Homo sapiens: one gene and its partner. The protein of the gene in region 1 purifies or fractionates together with the protein of each later gene. This does not show direct contact. Each region holds a gene or a part of one and is shown in the gene's direction. Other genes may lie near its edges. The genes, in order: PGC and CCNT1.

Region 1 (4,326 bases):
CTGCCTGGGGCCTGAGGACCTGACAAATCTGCCTGGAGCCCTGAGTGTGGGGTACGAGGTCGCAGAGAGGCTATTGGCACGGGGATTTTTTTCCCACTCACTCCAAAATGGAGAGCTGTCCTGGGCCAGGTGAGCAGGCACTGGGCCAGCTCCAGGTCACCTCAGGCAATGGGAAGCTGGTAGCTGGGAAGTGGGGTGGGAGTTGGGGGAGGTGGGGGAGGGGGTGCCGAGATGAGGGATAGAGGAACTAACAAATCAGACTTGGGGGCTGCACAAGGGCTTGGGAGTGGGTCATGGGAGACATAGGCACTTTAGGAGAACTGAAGACAGAAGCAGGGACGCAGCGGGGCAGAAGAGAGAACGAGGAACAGCAGCAGGGCGCAGGCCTGTCCCTCTTCATATGCCCCTGCTCCAGGCCTCTGATCTAGGTCGGTACAAGAGGCACAACCAGAAGCTGGTGTGGCTTACTCTGTGAGTGTGTCCTGAGCATTTGCTGAATTATGACAAGCATTTCTCCAAATGTCCTGTTTGACCTTGAAAGCCTCTGAAGCTGCTCAAATAGCTGTGACTTCAGCCATTGTCATCCCAGCCCCACCACCAGCACCAGAACTCCCGACACTGCCATCAGCACCACCCTCACCATCACCATCATTGTAACCAGCATCCTAGCTACTAGCTACTGACCTCTTGACCCCCTGACACCCCTATCTCCTCCCCTGAGGGTTTGAGGGTGCTAGGAGTTAGGAGTGGAGTCAAAGCTTCAAGTACATAACCTAGAGACAAGCAGTTCTCAATGATTTTGCCCATCCAGAAGACACTTAGCAGTGCCTGGAGATATATTTGGTTGGCACAATGGGTGGACTGCTCCTGGCATCGAGTCGGTAGATGCCAGGAATGCTGTTAAACATTCTATAGTACACAGGATGGGGCCCACAACAAAGAACTATTTGTTCCAAAATGTCGACAGCACTGAGGTTGCGAAACCCTGGCTATAGATCCTATCTATCCCAGCACTCTGCCTCTACCTTTTTCTGGCCCTCGTCCCTAAATGCACACATTATGCCTCTGGTTTGGGAACAAGACGTAATCTTCACCACTCCATCTTACGGCAACTTTCTCTCTTATCGCTTGCACCTCCTGGCCTCCGATGCTTGAACCAAAAAGTCAATAAGATGAAAGTCTGTTGCGGCCACCCTCAAGAAGGAAAAATACACAGAAACGATACACGAAGCACAGGGTACACCCTGGGTTGAGGTCATGGCTGCCCAGGGCAGGGAGGCAGCGATTAGACTAATCTTGGGCGTATAAAAGAGGAAAGAGTGCCCAGGTCTTCACTCCACTGCGACTGCAGAACTCAGAGCTGCTCTTCCTCTGTGGCCAGTTGGGGACCAGCATCATGAAGTGGATGGTGGTGGTCTTGGTCTGCCTCCAGCTCTTGGAGGCAGCAGTGGTCAAGTGAGTCTGGGATCTGGCTGCTGGTGCAGGGAGCCTGGATGGGAGCCTAAAGCCCTGCAAAGGGCAACTGGGCCAGGGGACACCCTGCCTGTCTCTACTCTGGGACTTCTGCTAGGGGAAGGGAAGTCTCCCTTTGCTGATGTTAGACAGGACACATGGGTGGAAGGAGACACAGCCCCTGCCTTCAGGAAACTTCCTATCAAAGGGAAAAGCACGATCCCTTCCCCCATCTGATGAGGAAAGATGGACCTGAAACAGAGGTGGTAAGGGTGACTACTGCCCAAGCAGCCCTTGAATGGCAGGTGTGGATTCTTCTCACAGAAGGGAGCAATCCTTTTTGGATAAGGGATATCTTATCCACTATCCTCTCTAAAAGTTGCTTTAAGGCTGAAAATTTACTGGCAGATGCCAAAATCATCTAAGCAGAAACACCAGTAAATGTAAATCTCTACACCTGAGGGGTCAGGAGAAAACTCTGGAGTAGATGGCATGGCTCACAGGCCATCAGGAAGGCGCCCAGCCTGCCATCCTGCCTGTTATTTCTCTACCCAAGAGTACTTCCTGAGGCCAAGAGCTGGCTCCTCTCAGAAACTCCTATCAATATGCATATTTGGTAGAGGTGGTTAATTAGTCTTCATAGCTCAGGGTGAAGGGGTTTAGCAGAGAATTTCTGGAGAATGCAGAGTCCCCAGGGAATGGGGATTAAGCAGAATTCTGGAGCCTAGAGCAAGGCCAGAGTGGACCCCTAGAGACTCCCAAGCAATGGCAGCAAGCAAGTCTGGGAAGGAGAGTGCCGAGGGTGTGACTGAGCCCATAGGATGGGACAGAAACGGTGATTTATAAGTTCCAACTCCAGAGCTGATCTGTGCTCCAGACCACCCAGGCCAACTTCCCGTGGTCCTGGTGTCCTGAGAGGAGCAGTGATGGGGCCTAGGCCATGCGATTAGCAGCTGGGACAGAACTAGGACTCTGTGTCCTGAGTCCCAGCTAGTGCTGTTGCCGTTGCTCCATGCTCTGTCACATCCAGCTGGTGCCAGGTGCCTGAGGGCTGCCGTAGAAAGGAACTCTGGGGTGAACTTTGCCATCTCTGAAATCTTCTTTGTTTTTTTTTTTGAAACAGAACTTCGCTCTTGTTGCCCAGGCTGCAGTGCAATGGCGCGATCTCGGCTCACTGAAACCTCTGCCTCCCAGGTTCAAGCGATTCTCCCACCTCAGCCTCCCGAGTAGCTAGGATTACAGGCATGCGCCACCATGCCCGGCTAATTTTGTAATTTTAGTAGAGATGGGTTTTCACCATCTTGGCCAGTCTGGTCTCGAACTCCTGACCTCAAGTGATCCACCCGCCTCGGCCTCCCAAAGTGCTGGGATTACAGGCGTGAGCTACCGTGCCTGGCCTGAAATCTTCTGTTAAAAATGTGCATTTCCTGGGCTGGGCGCAGTGGCTCACGCCTGTAATCCTAGCACTTTAGGAGGCCAAGGCGGGCGGATCATTTGAGGTCGGGAGTTTGAGACCAGCCTGACCAACATAGAGAAACCCTATCTCTACTAAAAATACAAAATTAGCTGGGCATGGTGGCCCTTGCCTGTAATCCCAGCTACTCAGGAGGCTGAGGCAGAAGAATAGCTTGAACTCGGGAGGTGGAAGTTGAGGTGAGCCGAGATCAAGCCATTGCACTCCAGCCTGGGCAACAAGAGCGAAACTCTGTCTCAAAAAAAAAAAAAAAAACTACATATCCTGGGCCAGGTGCGGTGGCTCACACCTGTAATGCCAGCACTTTGGGAGGCCTAGGCAGGCGAGTCACGAGGTCAGGAGATCAAGACCAGCCTGGCCAACATAGTGAAACCCTGTCTCTGCTAAAGATACAAAAAATTAGCCAGGCATGGTGACAGGCGCCTGTAATTCCAGCTACTCGGGAGGCTGAGGCAGGAGAATTTTCTGAACCCAGGAGGTAGAGGTTGCAGTGAGCGGAGATTGTGCCATTGCACTCTAGCCTGGGTGACAAAAGTGAAACTGCGTCTCAAAAAAAAAAAAGTACATATCCTGAAAAGGGTAAAGCCTAAAGTCCCTCTTCCTTTCCTGGGGAGGAATCTATGGGATATTTGACAGCAAAGGGCCAGGGAGATAGGAGGACCCTTGAGATGAGGTGAGGAGTGCATGCATGGTGAAATGAATGGTTTTCTGAATCTTAGAGCAAGTGCTGAGAAGAGCTTTGTAAGAAAGAGGGGAAGAGGCAAAGGGAGGAAGAAACACGCGCGCGCGCACACACACACACACACACAGAGAGACAGACAGACAGAGACAGAGAGCAAAAGGCTGAGAGAGAGAAAAAGACACACACAGACAAGGGGGAACAAACAGAGTGGCAGGGAGGTTGAAGCATGCAGTTAAGAGAAGGAGAGAGAGAAAGAGAGGAGTGGGAAGAGAGGAAGGAGGGAGGGCCTTGCCTCATATGCAACCTTTCTGTAGAGTGCCCCTGAAGAAATTTAAGTCTATCCGTGAGACCATGAAGGAGAAGGGCTTGCTGGGGGAGTTCCTGAGGACCCACAAGTATGATCCTGCTTGGAAGTACCGCTTTGGTGACCTCAGCGTGACCTACGAGCCCATGGCCTACATGGATGTGAGTCCTGACCCTTTCTGGCGGTAGCCTTCTCTCTGGTGTGGGCTGGAGGGAAGGGGCAGGTCCCTTCACTCCTCTGCCCATGGAGGAGCCTGGGGCCCCTGGATCCCTCTGGAACTAACAGCTTGCTCCATGGCCCCCAGGCTGCCTACTTTGGTGAGATCAGCATCGGGACTCCACCCCAGAACTTCCTGGTCCTTTTTGACACCGGCTCCTCCAACTTGTGGGTGCCCTCTGTCTACTGCCAGAGCCA
Region 2 (3,813 bases), on another chromosome or scaffold:
AATTGAGAGCTCATGACACTCTCTGTTTTCTTCCCTCTGATGTCAGCCTGCATTTGACCACATTTAGCCTGCAGTACACACCTCCTGTGGTGGCCTGTGTCTGCATTCACCTGGCTTGCAAGTGGTCCAATTGGGAGATCCCAGTCTCAACTGACGGGAAGCACTGGTGGGAGTATGTTGACGCCACTGTGACCTTGGAACTTTTAGATGGTAAGTTTTAGAGTAAGGGACCTTGAAAAGCACTTGCTGTTGATCTGTCACATAGCTGGCCAAAGGTGACTTGATTCAGATGAAAATAGTTAGTTAGTAGTTCAGGTTATTCTTGTTTCATTACTTCTGTTTCTCTCAGTCTTTCTTGAATGTTCTGTTTTACTTGTAGAACTGACACATGAGTTTCTACAGATTTTGGAGAAAACTCCCAACAGGCTCAAACGCATTTGGAATTGGAGGGTAAGAATCATTACTGTCAGCTTGTGGAACAAAATCAATTTCTTTTGACTGCACCAGTGAATATACCAGTATTGAATATGTACCCTAGGTTTGGAATTGCCCTTTTTATAGTTACACAGTAATCATGACTTCTACTTCATACCTTGGATACTGTTGTAAAAGTCAGTGTCTCTATGGGATAGCAGGATTTGCTTTTCATTGTGTAACTCCTGTGATATGATCATTTGAGCAGTAACACTGGTTCAGTATTTTCTGTGTGGAAACTGGTAGGGAAAAAACATGGCTTCTCGGAGTTAGAGTATTGGCTTCTGGTAGAGGCAAGATAGAGAATTACAAGGTTAGAGCCGGTATCACAGTTTTGTGTTTGACATTACCTACTTTTAAAATGGATTTTAGAATTTTGTTTTTATATAGGCTGTAGTCTGAAGTTGTATTTCAAATACTTGTCAAAGCCTTATTCAGGAATAATGGAATCATTCCTTTTTTTTCTGTCAGATATAAAACTTGTTTTAAAATGTTTCCATTGTTTTCTCCTAAATCCAGACAGAAAAAGTTAATTTCATTCTCCTGAGTTGAGTGAGTGGCAGAGAGTGAGTTTGCCTCTTAGAAGCCTGAGATTAGAAGTAGGCTTGAGAGGCCGGGCATGGTGGCTCATGCCTGTAGTCCCAGCACTTTGGGAGGCCAAGGCAGGCGGATCAACTGAGGTCAGGAGTTCGAGACCAGCCTGGCCAACATGGTGAAACCTCGTCTCTACTAAAAATACAAAAATTAGCCAGGCATGGTGATGCACACCTGTAGTTCCAGCTACTTGGGAGGCTGAGACAGGAGAATCGCTTGAACTCGGGACGTTAGGTTGCAGTGAGCCGAGATTGTGCCACTGCACTCCAGCCTGGATGACAAAGTGAGACTCTGTCTCAAACAAACAAACAAACAAAAAACAACAGTAACAACAAAAAAGAAGTAGGCTTGAGAGCACATCTTTTACTTTAGCATAAAACCTCACCAAAATTTCTAGAACTCAGTTATGGACTAACTATAATCATAAGCGAAGGCATGGATGTTCATGTATGAATTTTAGATAAGCATAGATTCTTTGTTGTTATTATTGCTTTGTAACGTTTGGATAGATTGCTGTGACTCTTAATTGAAGGTTTTAAAATCTTCTCTTGATGGTAATATTTATTGGATTACATGTTAGGATAGCCTCCTGCCTGTGGCCTATCCAGAACTTCCAGTGTTGCTGCAAGTACAATCTACTCATCTCAGTGTTTTTTTATTTAGTAAATTACCTAAGTAAAGAGATGCTATTTGCTTCATTGCAGGCATGCGAGGCTGCCAAGAAAACAAAAGCAGATGACCGAGGAACAGATGAAAAGACTTCAGAGCAGACAATCCTCAATATGATTTCCCAGAGCTCTTCAGACACAACCATTGCAGGTTTAATGAGCATGTCAACTTCTACCACAAGTGCAGTGCCTTCCCTGCCAGTCTCCGAAGAGTCATCCAGCAACTTAACCAGTGTGGAGATGTTGCCGGGCAAGCGTTGGCTGTCCTCCCAACCTTCTTTCAAACTAGAACCTACTCAGGGTCATCGGACTAGTGAGAATTTAGCACTTACAGGAGTTGATCATTCCTTACCACAGGATGGTTCAAATGCATTTATTTCCCAGAAGCAGAATAGTAAGAGTGTGCCATCAGCTAAAGTGTCACTGAAAGAATACCGCGCGAAGCATGCAGAAGAATTGGCTGCCCAGAAGAGGCAACTGGAGAACATGGAAGCCAATGTGAAGTCACAATATGCATATGCTGCCCAGAATCTCCTTTCTCATCATGATAGCCATTCTTCAGTCATTCTAAAAATGCCCATAGAGGGTTCAGAAAACCCCGAGCGGCCTTTTCTGGAAAAGGCTGACAAAACAGCTCTCAAAATGAGAATCCCAGTGGCAGGTGGAGATAAAGCTGCGTCTTCAAAACCAGAGGAGATAAAAATGCGCATAAAAGTCCATGCTGCAGCTGATAAGCACAATTCTGTAGAGGACAGTGTTACAAAGAGCCGAGAGCACAAAGAAAAGCACAAGACTCACCCATCTAATCATCATCATCATCATAATCACCACTCACACAAGCACTCTCATTCCCAACTTCCAGTTGGTACTGGGAACAAACGTCCTGGTGATCCAAAACATAGTAGCCAGACAAGCAACTTAGCACATAAAACCTATAGCTTGTCTAGTTCTTTTTCCTCTTCCAGTTCTACTCGTAAAAGGGGACCCTCTGAAGAGACTGGAGGGGCTGTGTTTGATCATCCAGCCAAGATTGCCAAGAGTACTAAATCCTCTTCCCTAAATTTCTCCTTCCCTTCACTTCCTACAATGGGTCAGATGCCTGGGCATAGCTCAGACACAAGTGGCCTTTCCTTTTCACAGCCCAGCTGTAAAACTCGTGTCCCTCATTCGAAACTGGATAAAGGGCCCACTGGGGCCAATGGTCACAACACGACCCAGACAATAGACTATCAAGACACTGTGAATATGCTTCACTCCCTGCTCAGTGCCCAGGGTGTTCAGCCCACTCAGCCCACTGCATTTGAATTTGTTCGTCCTTATAGTGACTATCTGAATCCTCGGTCTGGTGGAATCTCCTCGAGATCTGGCAATACAGACAAACCCCGGCCACCACCTCTGCCATCAGAACCTCCTCCACCACTTCCACCCCTTCCTAAGTAAAAAAAGAAAAAGAAGAGGAGAAAAAAACTTCTTTAAAAAAACACATAATTTTTCTTTTTTTTTTTTGGACTAAGAAAATTACTTATGAAATATGTCATCCTTGGACTAGGGAATAAATTGATATTGAGACATAGTTAGGAGGGTGGTAGAAGGCCTTGGCTATATATCTGCTGTCTCATGCATTTAACTATTTTCTTACAGTTTTTACTGGTATTAGAGAGGTGTTGAAGCTGTGAAGGATTAAGGACACATTCTGAATTCTTGGCCTCTCCACCATCTAATTAGGTTGATTGGAGTTGATATCTTCCCTCTTCTTGCCAGAGCTGAAAAATGGAGGGTTTCTTGTATCAGACAATTGTGGATCCTTTCGGTGTTTAATATATCAGAAGAGAGGAAGTATTTAAACGTCAAATCTTTTAATAGACTTAATAATTTAAAGAAAGTAAGTTATCTGTTTAGTTTTTTTATATAATTGGGAAGGGGATAGGGATTTTGCTGTGTGTATATGATACATAGCAGTAACTCCTGGTGGGTGGGATTGGAGGGTGGGAATGTGTGAGGGTGGGTGGGAGGCTAGGTTTTTGGCTAGGAGTTCTGAAATAGGCTCAGGCCACTTTTTTCAGACTTTTAAGTGTGT

Evidence for each region.
Region 2: the proteins of PGC (region 1) and CCNT1 purify together in Homo sapiens (affinity purification with western blotting, with the first as the bait; one study listed by BioGRID). This does not show direct contact.

Annotation. Positions count from the first base shown.
Region 1 is NC_000006.12:41,744,405-41,748,730, reverse strand, and holds the start of PGC (gastricsin isoform 1 preproprotein), read left to right. Parts: upstream 1-1,333; 5' UTR 1,334-1,396; coding exon 1,397-1,455; intron 1,456-3,922; coding exon 3,923-4,073; intron 4,074-4,216; coding exon 4,217-4,326. UniProt on the Homo sapiens protein: Hydrolyzes a variety of proteins.
Region 2 is NC_000012.12:48,692,396-48,696,208, reverse strand, and holds part of CCNT1 (cyclin-T1), read left to right. Parts: exon of another isoform or gene 1-46; coding exon 47-210; intron 211-379; coding exon 380-450; intron 451-1,772; coding exon 1,773-3,176; 3' UTR 3,177-3,813. UniProt on the Homo sapiens protein: Regulatory subunit of the cyclin-dependent kinase pair (CDK9/cyclin-T1) complex, also called positive transcription elongation factor B (P-TEFb), which facilitates the transition from abortive to productive elongation by phosphorylating the CTD (C-terminal domain) of the large subunit of RNA polymerase II (RNA Pol II).